Linked DNA regions of Homo sapiens. The protein of the gene in region 2 interacts with the protein of the main gene of each other region in a biochemical or structural test. Each region holds a gene or a part of one and is shown on either strand. Other genes may lie near its edges.

Region 1 (8,735 bases), on a different chromosome or scaffold from region 2:
ATGGGATGGCTGGGTCAAATGGTATTTCTAGTTCTAGATCCCTGAGGAATCGCCATACTGTCTTCCACAATGGTTGAACTAGTTTACAGTCCCACCAACAGTGTAAAAGTGTTCCTATGCATCAATTCTTGAAGAGATAATATTGAAAGAGGGATGATTCTCAAGCCCTTTCAATTTTTAGATAATTTGGAGAGGTATTTAATAAGTATATATACCTGGTTAATATATTTAAGTCATATGGTTCATTTTAGTTCACAATAACAAGGAAATGGAGTTAGTCTGTGTCTCAAAATAGATGGTATAGTGTCTGTAGGTGTTTACGTGGCCTCCTTAGTGGCCTTAATGTTCAACTTTTTAAATTACCACGCTGGATTTCCAGGTTACAAGAGGACCCACCTGTGGGTGTCAGTGGCGCACCATCTGAAAACAACATCATGCAGTGGAATGCAGTTATATTTGGGTGAGTTGAAAGGTTTAACAAATAATAGGTGTGTGCTGAATCTTTAAGAAAAGTAAACATATAACAACTGTCTAGGAAAAGAAACTGAGGTGGAATGAGAGATCTTAAGGACTAAAACTGCAAGATAAATTAGAAAAAAAAAATATTTCAATTAGAGTTTTGGCCCAGCACAGTAGTAGCTCAACGCCTGGGAGGATCGCTGGAGCCCAGGAGTTCACCAGCCTGGGCGATATAGTGAGACAGTGAGACTCTGTCCCCTCCCCACCAAAAAAAGTTTTGGCCCAGTCTGGGCAACATAGTGAGCCCTTGTCTCTACAAAAAGTATAAAACTAGCTGAGCATGGTGGTGCATACCTGTGGTCCCAGCTACTTGGAAGGCTGAGGCAGGAGGATCACTTGAGCCCAGAAGTTTGAGGCTGCAGTGTGCCATGATTGTGCCACTGCCCTCCAACATGGGCAGCCAGCAGAGCCAAGATCCTGTATCAAAAAAAAAAAGGAAAAAGTTTCAGCAGTTATATAAAGTTTATTTGCTCTTTGATGTTATTACATATGGTTTTATAATCTCTTGGGGTTTTACTTTTAAAATACTATTCAAAACTAAATGGAATGGAATAATAAAGGAGAAACAATAAGTTACTTTATATAAAACATATCACGCAAATGCTCTCATTCTGTTGGAGCTGTTAAAAGGTTTGGAACCAAAAATATTAAGAACTTCCACTGTGGCAAGAATTTAAGCGAAAATGATTCACAGCCCAGTGTGAAATAACAGAATGCAGCCATTTGAGAAGCAGTTGTAAATTTTACCTACTATGTATATTGCGTATATGCTTTTTAATTTAAAATTTCCTTATGCTTTTTCTTTGGTTTTTCTAGACTTGATCTATTTTTTCTTTCATTCCTTTGAAACTAGAGTTTTGCATTAAAAAGTAAAAGGAGTATGTTGATAAACAGAATTCTGACACTACAGAATCAGCTACAAGAGTCTACATTTAAAGACTAGTGGAAAATGAGTGAAGTTCATCCTCATAAAGTACTTCTGAATTTGAGTTGAATACATGGCACCTTCAGGATATTATCCTGCTGCTTTGAGATCCTGAATATGCCTTGCAAGTAATAATTAAACTTTATGCTCCATCCTGGCTAACACGGTGAAACCCCGTCTCTACTGAAAATACAAAAAAAAATTAGCCGGGCGAGGTGGCGGGCGCCTGTAGTCCCAGCTACTCGGGAGGCTGAGGCAGGAGAATGGCGTGAACCCCAGGGGGCGGAGGCTGCAGTGAGCCGAGATTGCGCCACTGCACTCCAGCCTGGGCGACAGCGAGACTCCGTCTCAAAAAAAAAAAAAAAAAAAAAAAAAAAAACTTTATGCTGCTGCTTAGGAAAGATGAAATTGGGATGTGGGGACAAGGATCTGAGCAAACAAATCTGGCTTTTTGGTGACAACTATGCTTAGCCTATTTGAACAAGAGTTATGGCTCCATTGGAAAGCAGGACACTTGGGTTTAGCATCATAACTAGAGTATTGCTTTACATCATATTGCTGTAAAATGAAAAGATGTCTTTTCCTCTTAAGAATATACATATGGGCCAGGTGCGGTGGCTCACGCCTCTAAATCCCAGCACTTTGGGAGGCTGCGATGAGTGGATCACCTGAGGTCAGGAGTTCGAAACCAGCCTGGCCAATATGGTGAAACCCCGTTTCTACTAAAAATACAAAAATTAGCCAGGCATCTGTAATCCCACCTACTCGGGAGGTTGAGGTAGGAGAATCACTTGAATCCAGGAGAAGGAGGTTGCAGTGAGCTGAGATCATGCCATTGCACTCCAGCCTGGGGGACAAGAGCAAAACTCCGTCTCAAAAAAAAAAAAAAAAAAAAAAAAAAATATATATATATATATACACATATGTACAAAATGACTGGTCAGTATTAATGAAAGTTTTTTTGTGCTAAAATTATGGGCAAGTTTTTTTGTTTGGTTTGGTAAAACCACCCTAAAAAGAAAGCTTAGAATGAAAGTTAATACTTTATGCCTGGGTCTATGAAAATCCAGGGCTAAGGTGTTACTAAACTCTATCTTAAAACTCCACAAATCATCAGAATGAGTCCCTCTTTTTCTGTTGAAGTTTATCCTTTCCATTCTTGAAAATCAAGAAAAAGCAGAATGAGAAACTTCTTTTAATCAGAAATCTTCTTGTTTTCAGACCAGAAGGGACACCTTTTGAAGATGGTAAGTCATACTCATTATGTTTTCTATAGTGTTATGAGGTTACTTTTTAGTAGAAAATTGTAACACCAACATATCTACTTGAAGCCATTTTCTATGGTTAATAGGCCAAGTTAAAAGTAAAGCTATGGAAAATTTATACTTCATAAGGGACTTCTTCCCACAGCAGCTTGGTCACCTCCATTGGTAACCAATATTAAAGGTTACTTTAATATTTTCCTGTATAACTGTAAGCCTGGATGGCAGTGTTTATGTTGAGAATAGTTTAAATTTAGGTGGCCTTAAAGATATCTCTGAGGTGAACACCAGAAGAGTAAATCATGCTTTTTTACTTTGTTATCTTTGATATTGACAGGGTGTTGAGCTGAAATTTTTCATAAACATACATAGCTGCCAGTAGTTTCAAGTACTACTAGCATTTAACACCCATAAGTAGTTATCATTTTGCATAATCTTTGGCATCTCAAGTTGGGTATTTTCATCAGGGGCTAGGAAAATGGGAAACTAGTTCTAATACCGAATTTATAATTGAACTTATCAAACTGATTTTAACCAGGAACTTAGACTTTTCCCAATTGTAGTGTTGGATTTTAAGAAATTATTAAACATCTTTGTTATCATTAACAAAATGACTTCAGAATTAATCCATCAAAAATATTTATCCGAGAATACTGACTGCAGCAGTTTGTAAGGACGTAACCTGAATGTCCAGTAGGAGAAATGGTTAAGCAAATTATGATGTATCTGGATTCTGGAATATGTACCTGTTAAAGAATAAGGTAGATTTGGACATACTGTCTTAAGAGGACAAAAAAACTGCACGATAATGTTTGTCGTAGCATCACATTTTTAGCAAATACATATATGCATGTGTGTCTATGTTAAAGGGTTATATATCAAACTGTTACCAGTGATTATCTGTGGGGGGGGTAAGGAGTTGAAGGAGGTACTTAAGGACGTTACCTTTTTTCTCTACATCAAGGGTTCTCAAGTGTGTGATCCATAAACCCCTTGGGGTCTTGGAGACCCTCTCGGGGGACCCATACGATCAAATCTCATCATACTAAGACTGTTGACCTTTGCATTGATGGTACAAAACCAATGGTGGCTATAACTACACCTAAGTAGTTTCGTATCTTAGAACAAATCAAGGCATTAGACAGTGGCACCAAACCATACTAATAGTGATTATATTCTTTGCATTTTAAAAGATGCCAGTTGGCCAGGGGCAGTAGCTCACACCTGTATAGCCAGCACTTTGGGAGGCTTAGGCAGGTGGATCATGGATCACTTGAGCCCAGGAGTTTGAGACCAGCCTGGGGGAGCCCTTCTCTACAAAAAATTAGCCAGGCATGGTGGTACATGCCTTTAGTCCCAGCTACTTGGGAGGATTACCTGAGCCCAAGAGGTCAAGGCTGCAGTGAGCCCTGGTGGAGCCACTGAGCTCCAGCCTGGGTGACAGAGTGAGACCTTGTCTTTAAAAAAGTTACCAATTTTTCTTAATTTCTTAATTTAAAGACATTTTTATTAGTATTAGGAAGCTCTGGACCCTTGAGTATCTATGTGGGTTTTTTTTGTTTGTTTTTTGTTTTTTGTCTCGCTCTCTCACCCAGGCTGGAGTGCAGAGGCGCAATCTTGGCTCACTGAAGCCTCCGCCTCCGAGGTTCAAGTGATTCTCGTGCCTCAGCCTTCCAAGTAGCTGGGATTACAGACATGTGCTACCATGCCCGGCTAATTTTTGTATTTTTAGTAGAGATGGGGTTTCACCATGTTGGCCAGGCTGGGGCCTTAAACTCCTGACCTCAGGTGATCTGCCCACCTTGGCCACCCGAAGTGCTGAGGCATGAGCCACACCCAGCCGAGTATCTGTCTTTTTAATATTCTGTATGATATGAAGTAGAATGTATGAACAAAGCACTTCTGCATGTCATAGTATGATAGTTGTCTGGAAGAAAAGCACTTCTACAGTTGTTTGAGTTGCAATTTGAATGACTTTTTTTCATGGAACATTTTTTACTTGAAAATACAGACAAGCTGTGGTTATTCAGGTTTGAATATATGGCAGACATATTCTCAGAAGTAATGTAATAAGCTCGGTGTGGTGGCGGGCACCTGTAATCCCAGCTACTCGGGAGACTGAGGCAGGAGAATTGCTTGAACCTGGGAGGCAGAGGTTGCAGTGCGCCAAGATCGCACCATTGCACCCTAGCCTGGACAACAGAGCAAGACTCCATCTCAAAAAAAAAAAAAAAAAACAGTGGGGGGATCTAAGTGGGTTGTTAGGTTAAGGATAGCAACTGAAGATATTTGTTGCTGTTGATAAAATAACAGCTTCCTGATACTTACTTTTTGATGAGATTAGTGGGTAGTGTTACCTGTTGTGATTTTTTTGATAGTATATAATGGAATATGGCAACATTTGGAGGATCTGTAAACTCGAGTCACCCAATATTTTGCAGATGTCCCATGAATAATAATACAAAACCATGAATGGGTAAAACACGTATGTGAAGTGAACAGATTTTAATGTAACTGAGTACAAAAAGTTGACTAATAATTTCAGATTCTATATTGCAGCAAACCTTTAAAAGAACTACCATTTCTTCTTTGGTATAATATCAAAACAGAATAGCTACAGTCACCTGAAAAAGCTATTCAAATACTACTTTTTTTGCTGGGTGCAGTGGTTCATGCCTGTAATCCCAGCACTTTGGGAGGCCAAGGTGGGCAGATCACCTGAGGTCAGGAGTTCAAGACCAGCCTGGCCAACATGGTGAAACGTCGTCTCTACTAAAAATACAAAAATGAGCCAGGCGGGATGGCACGTGCCTGTAATCTCAGCTACCCCAGAGGCTGAGGCAGGAGAATTGCTTGAACCCAGGAGACGGAGGCTGCAGTAAGCTGAGATGGTGCCATTGCACTCCAGCCTGGGCAACAGTGAGACTCTGTCTCAACAAAAAAAAAAAAAAAAAAGGAAGAAAGAAAGAAAGTACTCCTTTTTTCAAGTACATATTTGTGTGAGGCCAGATTTTCTTCATGTACTTAAACTAAACGGTATTGTAATAGATGGAGTGCAGAAGCAGATAAGAGAATCCAGCTATCTTCTGTTAAGCCAGTCATTAAAGAGACAGTTGCAAATATGTAAAACATTGCTTACACTTATCACCAACTTGGGGAGAAATATAATTTTAATTTATATTCTGTGTAATGGGTTTGCAGTTTAACCTACCTTTTTTTTTTGGAGACAGAGTCTTGCTCTTGTCACCCAGACTAGAGTGCAATGGCGCGATCTCTGCTCACAGCAACCTCCGCCTCCCAGGTTCAAGCAATTCTCTTGCCTCACCCTCCTGAGTAGCTGAGATTACAGGCACCCCCATACCCAGCTCATTTTTGTACTTTTAGTAGAGGTGGAGTTTGACCACGTTGGCCAGGCTAGTCTCAACTCCTGACCTCAGGTGATCCGCCCACCTTAGCCTCCCAAAGTGCTGGAATTACAGGCGTGAGCCACCCCACCTGGCTACAGTTATTTTTAATGAAGATTTTCTGAGTTAAAGTTTTTTTGTGTGTGTGAGACGGAGTCTTGCTTTGTCACCCATGCCAGAGCATAGCGGCATGATCTGGGCTCACTGCAACCTCCACCTCCTGGGAGGGTCCTTTGCCATGTGGTAGTCAGACCCTCTCAAAATCCTTTAACCAACTCCCATTCTAAGCTATAATAAACTATTTGTAGTTCTTCAAATATGCATTTTAAATCTTGGTAGCTAGGGCCTAGTTGCCTTCCAAAAATATGACAGTTAACACTCCCACCAATAGCAACATGAATGTGCTTGTTCCCCAACCGCTTGCCAATGCTGCGTGTTACCATTCTAACATAAATAGAGTATATTTAGGATGTTTTGTATGCCGAACCAACGTTGACATACTAACTTTTATGTGGTTGTACAAAAACCAGTATGCAGTTGAGAACTGATGAAGAGATTAAAAAGTCGTGCTTGTCTTTACTATAATTATTTTGTTTTCTCTCTAGGTACTTTTAAACTAGTAATAGAATTTTCTGAAGAATATCCAAATAAACCACCAACTGTTAGGTTTTTATCCAAAATGTTTCATCCAAATGGTAAGTAGCATTTTATAGATTTTGCAGATGATAGTGGGGAAAAGAGTTGTTTCCCTCCTTTTAGCTCTTTCACCTTACTTTTTACTGTTAGGGCTCACTTGTAGGTGTTGCTTCCATGTCCATGTGAGCCACGTATTTTGTTGTGGATTTTTTTTTTTTTTTTTTTTTTTTTTTTTGAGACGGAGTCTCGCTCTGTCGCCCAGGCTGGAGTGCAGTGGCGCGATCTCGGCTCACTGCAAGCTCCGCCTCCCGGGTTCACGCCATTCTCCTGCCTCAGCCTTGTGAGTAGCTGGGACTACAGGCGTCCACCACCACGCCTGGCTAATTTTTTATATTTTTAGTAGAGACGGGGTTTCACCATGTTAGCCAGGATGGTCTCGATCTCCTGACCTTGTGATCTGCCCACCTTGGCCTCCCAAAGTGCTGGGTTTGTTGTGGATTTTTGGTTTGTTTCTTATTTCTTCAGAGACAAAGTTATACTCTGTCACCCCTGCTGGAGTGCAGTGGTACAGTCACAGTTCACTGTTACCTCAAACTCCTGGGTTCAAGTAATCCTCCTGCCTCAGACTCCTAACTAGCTGGGACGACAGGTGTGGACCACCATGCCCAGCTAATTTTTTTGTTTGTTTTCTTTTTCTTTTTTGTAGACACAAAGTCTCTGTGTGTTGCCCAGGCTGGTCCTTGAACTCCTAGCCTCAAGCAGTCCTCCCACTTTGACCTCCCAAAGCACTGTGATTACAGGAATGGGCCATTTTTTCCAGCCTTTAGCTATGTTTCTGTAGCTAGACTCTTACAAAGCTTCCAAATTTGAGGTCAAGTTGTTTTAATAACTCCTGAATTAAAAGTAATACATGGTCGGGCATGGTGGCTCATACCTATAAACTCAGCACTTTGGGAGGCCAAGGTGGGCGGATCACCTGAGGTCAGGAGTTTGAGACCAGCCCGGCCAACATGGTGAAACCCCATCACTACTAAAAATACAAAAATTAGTCAGGCATGATGGTGGGCACCTGTAATCTCAGCTACTCAGGAGGCTGAGACAGGAGAATCACTTGAACCTGGGAGACGGAGGTTGCAGTGAGCTGAGCTCACAACACTGCACTTCAGCCTGGGTGACAAACCAAGACTCTGTCTCCAAAAAAACAAAGGTAATATGTAAGCCAGGCACAGTGGTGCACACCTGTAGTCCCAGCTACTCCAGAGGCTAAGGCAGGAGGGTGGCTTGAGGCCAGCCTAGGTAACATAGTAAGATCCTGTCTCTACTAAAAGAAATAGATAAAAGTATTATCTATTTATTTGTGGAATTGTGAAAAATAAGAAAAATCTGTTGGCTAAAATTAAGCTTTTCAAAAATACAATTTTGGCCAGGCGTGGTGGTTCATACCTATAATCCCAGCACCTTGGGAGGCCAAGGTGGGAAGGTTGCTTGAGACCAGGAGTCAGAGACCAGCCTGGGCAACATAGCGAGGTCCCATCCCTATAAAAAACAAAAAAAATATCAAGGCATGGTGGCGCACACCTGTAGTCTCAGCTACTTATGGAGGCTGAGGTGAGAGGATCACTTGAGCCCAGGAGGTCAAGGCTGCAGTGAGCCATGACTGTGCCACTGCACTCTAGCCTGGGCAACAGAGCAAGATTCTATCTCAAAAGTACAATTTTGCATATACAAAGTTGGAGTCAATGACCACACACAGTGGTTCATGCCTATTAATTCCAGCACTTTGGAAGGCTGAGGAGGGTGGATTGCTTGAGCCCAGGAGTTCAAGACCAGCTTAGGCAACATGGTGAAACCCTGTCTCTACAAAAAATACAAAAATTAGCTGGGCACAGTGGTGCGTACCTGTATTCCCAGCTACTAGGGAGGCCGAGGTGGGAGAATTGCTGGAGCCTGGGAGGTTGAGGCTGTAGCAAGCCATGATTGTGCCACCGC
Region 2 (7,158 bases):
AGCAGATTTGGACTGATCTTCTCCTTTGGGTATGTCAGATCATCCTAAATTTTAGAAGCAGTTGATTCACTTTGGAATTCAGAATGATTCTTGTATTAGAAGATAATTTGTGGGTATTAATTTTTGTTTAAGTTTAAAATAAAAGTAAAGATTCATTTTGGATATCAGTTGAAACCCCTTAGTAACTCAGTTTCTGTTATTCTTGTTCTCATTTCCTTTAAATACACTTGTTCTTGGCTTTTGCCATTTTGATTCTGTGAAGTAGGCAGGAGCAGGGATTAATTTATACAGTATTCCTGTTCTGAACAAAACCAGAAAAGTCACTGTATAAACTTGACTTAAAATAGTATCTTTCTCTTTTCATGTATTTTCATTTGGGGGAAAAAAAATCTCTTTAATTGTAACCTGAATTCAAGCTGTACCCCTCCATGGTCCTACACTCTAGAGCTAATCTGGTTGGGCAGAAAGGCAGAAGGATGGTATATTGTCCCATTGTGCCTATAATGTATTTTAAATTGGTCATTCCACCTTACCTAATGGAAATTCTTGCAGCTTTCCTAGTGCTCATCAGCGGTTTTAGGAATTCACTAACACCCCCAAAATTTGTTTTTTGTTTTTTGCTTTTTTTCCTTTTCCTTTTCTCTGTGATATCATGAGCCTGTAAGGACAAATGGCATATTTGGGCATAACTGCTTGACTCTGTAACTACTTTTTTAAAATCAAAATTGAAAAGGTATTAATTGCTTCTGGCTTTTTAATTTTTTTTTTTAGAGACAAAGATGAAACCAGATAGGAAATACAGTTTTTATGTTTTCTACTTACTAAAATATTAGTTTCTTCTAAATATTACTTTATTTGTATTTCACTAAATTCCAAAGCAAAAATCAGATATCTGAGATGAACAATTTTGAATGGGTTAAGGTAGGAGTAATAAGCATTGTGTTCACTCATACATAGGTGAGGGAATTTTATTTATAGCGAGAAATATAAAAGTATTTTGACTTACTCTTTTTTCAAGGAGTCGCTAGGAAAGGGTAGAAGAACTGAGAATAAGACATCTAGATTCCATTTCTGGTTTATATGTAGCTCTTTTGCCTAATTTATATATAATTTTGTCATAAGATAAGTCCAGTAACTGTCCTGTCTTAGATAACGTACAGAGGCTGAAGTGACCAAAGATCCATTCCTTATTACTTTTCTAATTAAAAGAAGAGTTAGCTAGATTTCTAGTAGTAGTATTCTAGATATTGATAAGACATTATTCCTAATGCCAACTACAAATATTCAACTACTCAGAATGTATTTAAAAAATTGTTTGGTACAGCATTAATGTTGGTGATTCCTTTCTCCCATCTTATTTCCCTTCCCTTCTATTCTTTCCCATGTATTTCTTTTGCCTAAAAGAATATTGGTATGATTCTCATTTGCTACTTTGAGTATATAACTCCATCAGACTTTCCAGAGTTCTTCAGGGATGGAGCTCAAAGTTTACATTTTTCCATATATGTCTTTTTTTTTCTTGACCTTTTTCCACCCTGTAATTTCCCCTTGACTTACCCACTGCCCTCCCCAATCTGCAACAGTGACAGTTTGCTGCCTCAAAACAGAGCATTCAAATGAATTCGCTTAGCCAATAACTTCTGTGAAGTTGCCTTTTCTAATGGTGTTATTACTCAGTGATGCACAAATGTGGTATTTGCCCTACTGGTAGGCAAACAAAGGTCTGGTTAAGAATGGTAACCTGCTGTTTTCTTTAAAGGAGAGCCAAAGACTTGTGCTTTACTCTGTTTTGGTTTTGGGGGAAGTAGTAGCCATTTTGATCATGAAACCTTTTAGTATTTGTGAGTTGATTGTACTGTGTAAGTAGATTTATCTAAAGTTAACTGTTAAAGTTAGCTAGCCTTATAAAATGTAAAAGTAATGAAAATTCATCAGTTTCTCTAAGCCAGTGAATGTCGTCTTTTGTAATATTGTGTATAAGCATTTGTGCCCACCCCAGCTTCTGCTATCACTGTGGTCAAGTCATGGGTCTGAGTAAAAGAATTCTTGAGTATGTGACTGGTGAGAAATAACTAACTATAGTCAGTACATGTACAGATTGTTAAAATTCAAGACAAAATACTTTCACTAAAAAAAAGGATTCGTCTCAGTAAAGAAGTATTCAGTTGCTGTCACTTACATACAAATGGTGGTGGGTAGCAGTCTCACCATTTTTCTACTCTCTTTTTGCTCGTTTTAAATAATTGAGTAAAGGTTTTATTTGTAAAATCTATCTGTAAAAAGCACCTGTAACGATTTATATGTCATTGAAAGGAATGGCCCAGTTACTTTTTAGGAGAGATTAATAACCTACCTGGAAATTAACTGCAGTGTTTACTTAGATTTTTTCCCCCTAATAAGAGTCTAAGTGTGTTAAATTTTTAACTGATGATATGGTTACAGTGTTGCAAGGTGATCTCTTCCCCTGAAAAATCTGCCTATCCTTTTAAGAAAAATTAGACCTACTAAACTAAAGCAAATTTTACTTTCATCATTAGCACCTAAACAAGCAAGCAGTCTACTACTGTCATCATTTTACCTGAGTGCCCATTTTGCTGATCCACATTCATACCTTTCTACCTTGGACAGCTATGATTTTTATATTTATTTGTTGCTTCAGCTCAGGTTTATGAAATTTTCCTGCTGAAATGACTTATTGGGAGTTGTAGGTTGATTATAGTTACTATTAAACATTTTCTCAATTTAGCTTTTCTGAGCCACTTCAAGAAGAAAGCTGTTTTTGTCAAAAGGTACTATTAATTGTAGCAAGTAAATCTTAAGATTTGAATTTTTAAGATTTTATTTCTGTGTTCACTAAAGATCTTTCCACAAGTAATAGATTATAATTGATAAGTAATACTAGCTATAGTGTTAATAAAGAGTAAGACTATCACCACCAGGAATAAGTAACACCTTTTAATAATAAATCTATTCCTAATAGGTATGTTTTCAATACTGCACTGAACAAAGTGGGTAAAGAGCCCTTTGAAATCTTATTGTAATAAAGGGACTTACCTCACCACTGGAATCCTTGTTTTCAGAGCCTCTGGATTTTCAGCCAAACACTGAATTTCTCCTAAACTTTATCCCTGAAACATCCCTAGAGAACGAACTTTATTTTCACAAGAAAATAAGGCACAATAAGGGGGAAGAACTTAAACCTCAACATAATATCGTGTCCAAAAATGTGTATTTAGAAAAATAAAATCCTGTGGAGTTTGTTATCCTAATGTTTATTTTATACTAGATAAGGTGACTTGTTTTCTTGTATTGAGGTCTTACTGTTTCAGATTTGTTTTTGTTTCTGTTCTAACTCTAAGCAGACAGAGCTCACAAGTCTTTGGCATCCATTTTAGGTTGTACACTCAGAGTCATCTTATAACTGGAAACTGTCAGGTGGTCCCCCACCCCAGTGAGTGTATGAAAGAGTCAAGAAAAAGATTGGAAACAAACTATTGGGTGAATAATTGGTTGCTCTATTATTATTATTATTATTATTTGCCTTTTTTTAATCACCATTTATTTGTGTAATCTTTCTCCATTGATTGGCTGTCATTCTTATAATATCTGAACTACCCCATAAAATAATTCTCTGACTTAAAGGCATTTAGCTTTTGCTTATCGTTTTTACATCCTCTATTCAACTAAGACACTGTCTTGAGAGTTATTTTTTCCAGATGGATCGTTGGCCTAAATTTTCACACTTCTCCCCTGTTCATCCTTTTTCCTCTTCCCTGCTTCCTGGGAATAAAAGGAACTTTTTTAAAAAAATTAATTAGTCCACAGGTCTCATTATCTTTCTTTATGATTAATCTATGACTTTTTGGTACAAGAACAATGGAAAAAGTGAATTAAGGTAATGAACAAAACCTTTCACCCACTTAAACATTTTCCAGTTTTGAGATTCCTCTTCGTGTTTGTGGTGTCTTCCCCTTGTTACCCCTTCTGCCCTTTTTCTCTGACTATGGTAATTTGGTCTTTAGGCTCATATCAGTCTCCCCGAGACATTCTGCAGTCATTATCACCTTTTTGGGTGGATTTTATTTTGTTTTATTTTGTTTTTTTTAAAAAAATAACTTTTTAACATTGGTGCATATTTGCTTGGGATAGAGCTTGTGTAATTTACCAATCGTATTGATTGTAAGTGATTGTGCCCTGCAGAGGTATATTTAACAAGACAAAAATAATCTTGGTTAATAAAGGAGCCCATGAGATTTGAGTCAGGTTGTAAGTGAAATCACTTACACTTTTGGATAGAATTTATACTCCTGCTCTTATAAATCAGTGGTAGACTTACCATTTTTTAAAGTTTTCTTGCATTTTTTTGTTTTTTTATTGCCACAGCTCCCTATTCTTTCTTGCCTGCCTCCACCCCCCTGTTCAGGAAAAAAAAAAATTGAGCCTTAAAGTGACAGCTGATTTTTTAATTGCTGAATTTTGTGAAATTTTACTTTTTCCAAGTGTTTCCAACTTTAAAAAGAGAAGTGAAGACAAATAGGTTGGAATGGTGAAGACAAATGGATTGGAATTTCACAGGCTGTGAATAATTCCTTAGGATCTGGCAAACCGTGAAGTCTTATTTGAAGACCTTATCTCCTGAGAGTTCTTTTGGAGTAGGAAAAAGAACCCTATTTGAAATAGACCGTTTTTCTCTTGTTTTTAATCTGTTTAATATTTCTGATTTTTAAGCAGCTTTCAAAACAAGTGTGGTGGAAAAAAAGAAATAGTAGTAGGAAGATGTTTAGGGCAGCAGAACTCTGGGTCTAAATAAGTACATGTTCCCACTTGTTGCCGATTTTTGAGAGTACTAGGGCCATCTTTCTCAATTTTGTATTATTTGTGTGCATGTTTATATCAAAGATGCCCATTTTGTTAAAATGCTATTTCCTTTATTACCTTGGAAACTGACTCAGCCTCATGTTGCTCCTAATTAGTGTTTAAGGCTCCCATGAGTTGCAGATAAAATGATTTATTTTAACAAGTAGAAGGAGGTGATTCACCTTTTGGATTGTAAATATATGAAAATGTCTACAAGGTCTTTATCTGCTTTCTGTCAGCATTTATATTAAATGATAAATTAATGAGGAACGTGTGTATTTTGTAAATGAGTGTGTGCCATCTTATTCTAATCTTGAGATTACTTTCTTACACGTTTTTAATGGAGGGGGCTTTTTTAGGTGAAAAATAAAGAAATGGCTAATCTGCATGAGCAAACACATACTTGGAGTAGCCAATTTTGTGTGGACATCACAGGAATTAGTCCAATCTTAAATAAGCTACAGTCATATTCCTTCATTTGTCACACAGTGATTGCACATTAGGAGTGAGGGTAGTGGTTCTGAGATACTAGCATCAATTCAATGAGATTCAATGGCTAACATCCAGTGTCTCGGTTTTTATGGCGCTTCTGAAAATTAGGACCATCTTTATGCTTAAGTGAAAAGGACTTGTCATGGTAACTTCCTGATGCAAAATGTTTTTTTGTCTTTCCATTTTTTTTTTTTTTTTTTGAGATGGTGTCTTGCTCTGTTGTCCAGGCTGGAGTGCAGGGGCACAATCTCAGCTCACTGCAGCCTCTGCCTCCCCAGTTCAAGCAATTCTCTTGCCTCAGCCTCCCAAGTAGCTGAGAATATAGGCCTGCGCCACCATGCCCAGCTAATTTTTACATTTTTAGTAGAGATGGGGTTTCACCATGTTGGCCAGGCTGGTCTCAAACTCCTGATGTCAAGCGATCTGCCCGCCTCAGCCTCCCAAAGTGCTGGGATTACAGGCATGAGCCACTATGCCCAGCCTTGTCTTCCCATTCTTGCTGACTTCTGATTGTCCTGAAATCCCCACCCATTAGTCATTCCTCGAAGTTAGTGGATATAAGTAAGTTTGTCTAATAGAGACCATACGTTAGTCAACACCTCAATGGCATGAAGAAGAAAAGGGAGGAGGTTGGGTGTGGTGGCTCGTGTGTGTAGTCCCAGCTACTCAGGAGGCTGAGGCGGGAGGATTGCTAAAGTCCAGGAGATCAAAGCTACAATGAGCTATGATGCTTGATCGCACCACTACACCAGCCTGGGCAATGGAATGAGACTCTATTATTCTAGATTAAAAGAAATGTAAGAAGTACAAAAATCAAATGCAGCATAGGTGATTTTAGCAAACCAAATACACAAAAGACTTTTGTATACAGGAAAATTTGATTAAGTATTGGGCATTAGATGATACCAAGGAATGGCATTTTCGTTCATTGTGAAACATGATTATGTAAAAAATCCATTTTTTTAATAAAGATGGATAACACAATAGCTGCAATTTCCTTTAAAGTAGGAACTAAATATTTTTAAAAAGTAAATAATGCAGCCACGCACGGTGGCTCACACCTTGTAATCCCAGCACTTTGGGAGGCCGAGGCAGGCAGATCACCTGAGGCCAGGAGTTTGAGACCAGCCTGGCCAACATGATGAAACCCCATCTCTACTAAAAAAAAAAAAAAAAAAAAAAAAAAATTAGCCGGGCATGGTGGTGGCCACCTGTAATCCCAGCTGCTCGGGAGGCTGAGGCAGGAAAATCGCTTGAACTCGGGAGGTAGAAGTTGCGGTGAGCTAACACCACTGCACCCCAGCCTGGGCAACAAAGAGTGAAACTCCGTCTCCAAAAAAAAAAAAAATCAATAATGCACATTACCAGTGAAGGTTATTTACTTCTCCTACCAACAATTAGCGATTAGGTGTCCATTGGTATATCTGACCTCAAGGGAAGGGACCATAGTAAAGAAAGCTTAGGGTATGAGGAGTGGTAACTGCTGCAGCCATCCCTGAATGATTATAAATTCTGGACTGGGAATTACAAAACTAGCCCTGTCATCTTAATCACCTACCTAGGCCTACCCTGCTCACAAGCAATAGGGTACATTCTGACCTCTTGGGCTGAAACAAAAATACCAATAGAAATTTGGTTTTTATGCCCATTAGTGCTTCAATCCCAATAACCAGCTAATCTTCAGTGATCAATTAGTAAACCCCTTTGCCCTCCAGCAAGATGACTCATTCAGTAAATGGCTGCCACCCTTATTTGGAACACCTACCATATAAAAAGTGGACTTGTCAAATACCCACTGAATACCCATTG
Region 3 (4,476 bases), on a different chromosome or scaffold from region 2:
GGACTGTGAGACCTGGCCTCGCACAGGCGCGCACACACCGCCAAGCAGCTCAGCATTCTCCCCCGGCACACTTAGTGACAGTGATGCTCTGTGCTGGTACCAAACAAGGCAGACTTGCAAGAACCATGGCATCTTTTTTTTTTTTCAAACCTTTCCTACTTCAAACAGGCTTCTCTTCTGAAATGATGACTTAATGTCGAATATTGACAGCTTACTGCAGTTTTACAGTATTCCTCACAAAGGGCTTCAGGTAGATTATCAGAGCTGTCAGCACTACCTCTCCCCGCTGAAACCAGCAGTTCATGGCTTCCTGTGGATTCCCTCCCTCCCTGGAGTGTTGAGGGGGTTGTACCTGCCAGACTTCCAGGGGACGATGGAATACCCAGAACGCTCCTTCTGAAGAAATGGGGCCCTGTAGCTGCAGCACAGGGGAAGGGCCCGGCACCCTTTCTGGGTCCTTCCTGGTTCCCTGTGGGCCCCATGAGGAGTCCATTACTTCCTTTCTTCCTTCATATTTTACAGGCAGATGCTTTTCTTATAATCTAATTACATCTTTTCATTTGTTATATATTACAAACCATCACACTTAGAAATACTTCCAGGAAATGCTTTTTTGAAGTGTGAATTAATAAGAAATGGGGTAAATAGAAAAGAAATTTATTGCTGATTGGCCAGGTGCGGTGGTTCGTGCCTGTAATCCCAGCTCTTTGGGAGGCCAAGGCAGGTAGATCACAAGGTCAGGAAATTGAGACCATCCTGGCTAATACAGTGAAACCCCATGTCTGCTAAAATTACAAAAAATTAGCTGGGCGTGGTGGTGCACGCCTGTAGTCTCAGCTACTCAGGAGGCTGAGGCAGGAGAATCGCTTGAACCCGGGAGGCAGAGGTAGCAGTGAGCTGAAGTCCCGCCACTGCACTCCAGCCTGGGCAACAGAGCGAGACTCAGTCTCAAAAAGAAAAAAGAAATTTATTGCTGATCACAAGGACAGACAGTTTTTTCCCGACCATACTCATCAAAGATTTACGTTTGTATATTAGTAACTAGTGCATTACTAGAGCAGGTGCAGGTGAGGTCTTTAAAGTTTCAATGAAAGTTTCTTCTGGATCTACAGAAAAAATTTTTTTTTTTCAATCTAAAAACTGGAAATTCTAGGGTTTTTGTACATTTTGGATGCACTGGGAATTTATTAGCACAAAATCATTCTTTGCAACTCAAAATTCAGAAGGGACTCTACCATATCTTAGCTCAGAGCACAGAGGAGTGCCTTATCCCCACACTTGACTGGGCTGTGGAGGTGGGCATGTGGGCCCCTGGGCCCAGGCTGGGGACAGAGCCCTTGTTTTGTGACTTAGGATTTTGATGTGGTTCCCATGTTCTCTAACAGGGCCAGCTGAGCAGCACAGGCCAGGAGGCCACAGTGTAAGCAATAACAGATCTGCCACATGCAGAAGCAAATATCAGGCCTGTCGCACACGGGCGGCATTTAAATAGGAATTTCTATTTTTGAAATAAGGGATGGTCTATGAGGCATACAGTAGATTTGATGTGATCCTTTTCTCCCTCCCTTCCATAATGGATCGTGGTCTGTGTGACTGAACCCACACAGAGTGTCATGGGTGACAGTTTCTGGTTGAAGTAGCTCCACGCCTGGCTTCTGTGGACAGCAGATTCTTTTCCTTCTCACAAGGGGCTCATTTAAAATTTGGAGGCTGGGTGCTGTGGCTCACGCCTGCAATCCCAGCACTTTGGGAGACTGAGGCGGGCGGATCATGAGGTCAGGAGATCGCGACCATCCTGGCTAACAGTGAAACCCTGTCTCCACTAAAAATACAAAAAATTAGCCGGGCGTGGTGGCGGGCGCCTGTAGTCCCAGCTACTCTGAAGACTGAGGCAGGAGAATGGCGTGAACCCAGGAGGCGGAGCTTGCAGTGAGCTGAGATCACGCCACTGCACTCCAGCCTGGGCAACAGAGTGAGACTCTGTCTCAAAAAAAAAAAAAAAAAAAATGGAACGCAGGGCAAGAACTCGTATTTGGAAGGAGATGGGGGAAAGGAGCGGTATTATACCTATGTTGTATTTGCAGGCAAATGAGATGGAGCCCTCTCTGTAAAGAAGAGTCATTTGTGCAAGTAGACGGGGTCTGTGGGTGCAGGCCCTGGAGGGGCACACAATTGCCTGGAGGCTTCTGTGAGATCGGGAGAGGGAGGAGAGGCAGTCTCTTGACAAAATAAAGTATTTTTATTCATTTGTATTTATTAAATGAAAAAACAATCCCATGGTGTCCCTGTTGTGTGGTGGAACCTAATGACTGTTGAAATAAAGTTCTGTGTTTTCCCTGCCCTGCAGTGTGTGTCCCTTTGTCGTATTGTCAGAGGAGCCTGTGGCCACTGCCCCCAGGGAGCACACCAGATCATCCCAGCTGGGATTCCTCACGGTGGGGGCTTTTCTGCAGACTTGGGTTAGCTCTGGCATGTTTTCTTCTGTTTCTGATCTCCCTTCTGTCATTCTGTGGTCTTCCTCTGGAATTCTCAGGTTAGTTGGGGTCTGTGAGACGGATGTGTTCACTAACCTATAAATGACATTTTGCAGCTTTTTCAGCAGATGCCATTGTGTGAGTGGCACATTTGACCACTAGAAGCCAGCAGGCTGTTCCGACTGCGCTTCCCTCCTGCAGTTGCTTAGAAGCACAGCTCCCTGTCATCACTCCTCTGTGGTCCTCTGTGGTCACGGTTGGTTGCGATGAGACCTGCCTCTGCGTCTTGTTACTTAGCATGTCAATAAAGAGGCAGATTCCTGTGTCAGTGATTTGCTGTTTCTGTTTTGGTAGTTGGCGGTCAGCTTTCCTTTGTAATCCTGTGAGGCAGGGTCCCCAGGCTTCCCCAGGTGCTGGCGCCTCGTTCCCTGGGCTGGTTCCCAGGCTGCTCCTGGTGGGGTGCACTGGGCGAGTGCCTCAGCACAGGCCCCCAGGCATGTCTGTTCTGCCCTTTGCCCAGTGTTCTCACTAAGCATTCTTTTTAATGGGTAAGAACTCTAATGTGATACTGAGTTGGGGTCCCCAAGACCACCCAGGGCGGCGATTCTCCAGGAGGACAGAGGCCATGCAGGTCACGGTAGTCACGGCTGTGATTTCCCACAGGGAGGACACTGAGCAAAATCGGCCAAGGGAAAGGTTCCTGGGGCCGAGTCCAGGGGCACCATGCTCAGCTTTGGAGGCCTCTCCTGGGGTGGGGGTCACGCAGGATGCGCCTCACTCCCCTGCAAGCAGCTGGGACTCTGCGTGTGCGATGTTGGGGATGCCCTGCCTGGTGATGTACCCGGGGGCTGGTCACGTGAGCAGCTTCTGCCTGGGCTGCGCTACAATTCCAGACTCTCAGCAGGGATGTGAGTGTTCTGCCTAAACCACCTTGTACAAATAGCACAGGCCCAGTGAGGCGGGGTTCAGGGAGCCCCTCGGAAATCCCAGTTCCCAGACGCCAGCCAAGGGCCAGCCCGGCCAGCGGGCCTCAGGACGGCCGTCCCCACTGTATGGACCCTTTCTGCGCAGATAACCTTGGGGGTTGACAGTGATTTTTACCATTTCATTTGCTCTGTGTTTCTGGGTTTTGTCTGCTGGCACTGGTTTGCCACAGTTGTTTGCCTGTCTGGCTGAGTGCCGTCCTTGCTTTTCCCATGCAACTGTCTGCTTCCTGGGATGGGGAGGGCTGCTGGGGTGGCCAGGGAAGCTCTAGGGTCTCATCTTCTGGGTGTTGGGGCTTTTCACCCTTCCTGGGGGTTAGCGGCCCCAGTTCACTGCTTGGGCCACAGCAAGGGTGGCGTCCACAGCTCTGACTCTCACTTCTGGGATTGCTGCACCTGCTGGGGCTTCTCCAGTCCAGTCTCTGTGTAGATGAGGTTGCTAATTTTTCAGAGGAGTGCTGTTCTGTACCAGTTTCTTCATAGGATATGGAACTGCTCCAGCTGCACAGAAAGGCACCCCAGGGCAGCCCCAGCTTCCCTCCCCTGGGCGTGCCTTGCACCGTGGCCCCCTGAGCTGACAAGGTTTCTGCAGGCTGGAATTTGTGCTGGAGGCGAGGGCCCTGGGGATGCTACCTGGACACAAGGAGGGGACAGGAAACAGGTACAAAAATTCGGGGCTGCCAAGGGGCAGTGAACACACTAAGGACAGGTGGATTCTGGAAACCCTGCCCTGGAGGGGACCGCGGGGCCGCTTGGGGTGGGGGCAGGGTTTGGAGAGGGGCTGTGAACAAAGCCAGCCCCTCTGGGTGTTGGCCTGGGGCCTGGACCCTGGGCTGGGGGGGGCACCCTGGGAGGAGGTCTCGTCGTGCTGATGTGGCGTGGTGGCCCCATCTGGGAGGGAATGCTGTTGGGCCCAGGTCCTGGCTGAGCCCTGTGGAAGCTGGAGGTGTTCAGCTCCTCAGATCTGTCCAGGTTGTGACCCGTTGTCACGAGAGCCTGGCTTTGTTGAGGGGACAAAG

Evidence for each region.
Region 1: the proteins of RC3H1 (region 2) and UBE2B form a complex in vitro, tested with the Homo sapiens proteins (one study listed by BioGRID).
Region 3: the proteins of RC3H1 (region 2) and UBE2G2 form a complex in vitro, tested with the Homo sapiens proteins (one study listed by BioGRID).

Annotation. Positions count from the first base shown.
Region 1 is NC_000005.10:134,374,004-134,382,738, forward strand, and holds part of UBE2B (ubiquitin-conjugating enzyme E2 B), read left to right. Parts: intron 1-379; coding exon 380-460; intron 461-2,665; coding exon 2,666-2,691; intron 2,692-6,715; coding exon 6,716-6,805; intron 6,806-8,735. UniProt on the Homo sapiens protein: E2 ubiquitin-conjugating enzyme that accepts ubiquitin from the ubiquitin-activating enzyme E1 and transfers it to a E3 ubiquitin-protein ligase. In vitro catalyzes 'Lys-11'-, as well as 'Lys-48'- and 'Lys-63'-linked polyubiquitination.
Region 2 is NC_000001.11:173,929,183-173,936,340, reverse strand, and holds the end of RC3H1 (roquin-1), read left to right. Parts: 3' UTR 1-5,257; downstream 5,258-7,158. UniProt on the Homo sapiens protein: Post-transcriptional repressor of mRNAs containing a conserved stem loop motif, called constitutive decay element (CDE), which is often located in the 3'-UTR, as in HMGXB3, ICOS, IER3, NFKBID, NFKBIZ, PPP1R10, TNF, TNFRSF4 and in many more mRNAs.
Region 3 is NC_000021.9:44,766,910-44,771,385, reverse strand, and holds the end of UBE2G2 (ubiquitin-conjugating enzyme E2 G2), read left to right. Parts: coding exon 1-9; 3' UTR 10-2,806; downstream 2,807-4,476. UniProt on the Homo sapiens protein: Accepts ubiquitin from the E1 complex and catalyzes its covalent attachment to other proteins. In vitro catalyzes 'Lys-48'-linked polyubiquitination. Involved in endoplasmic reticulum-associated degradation (ERAD).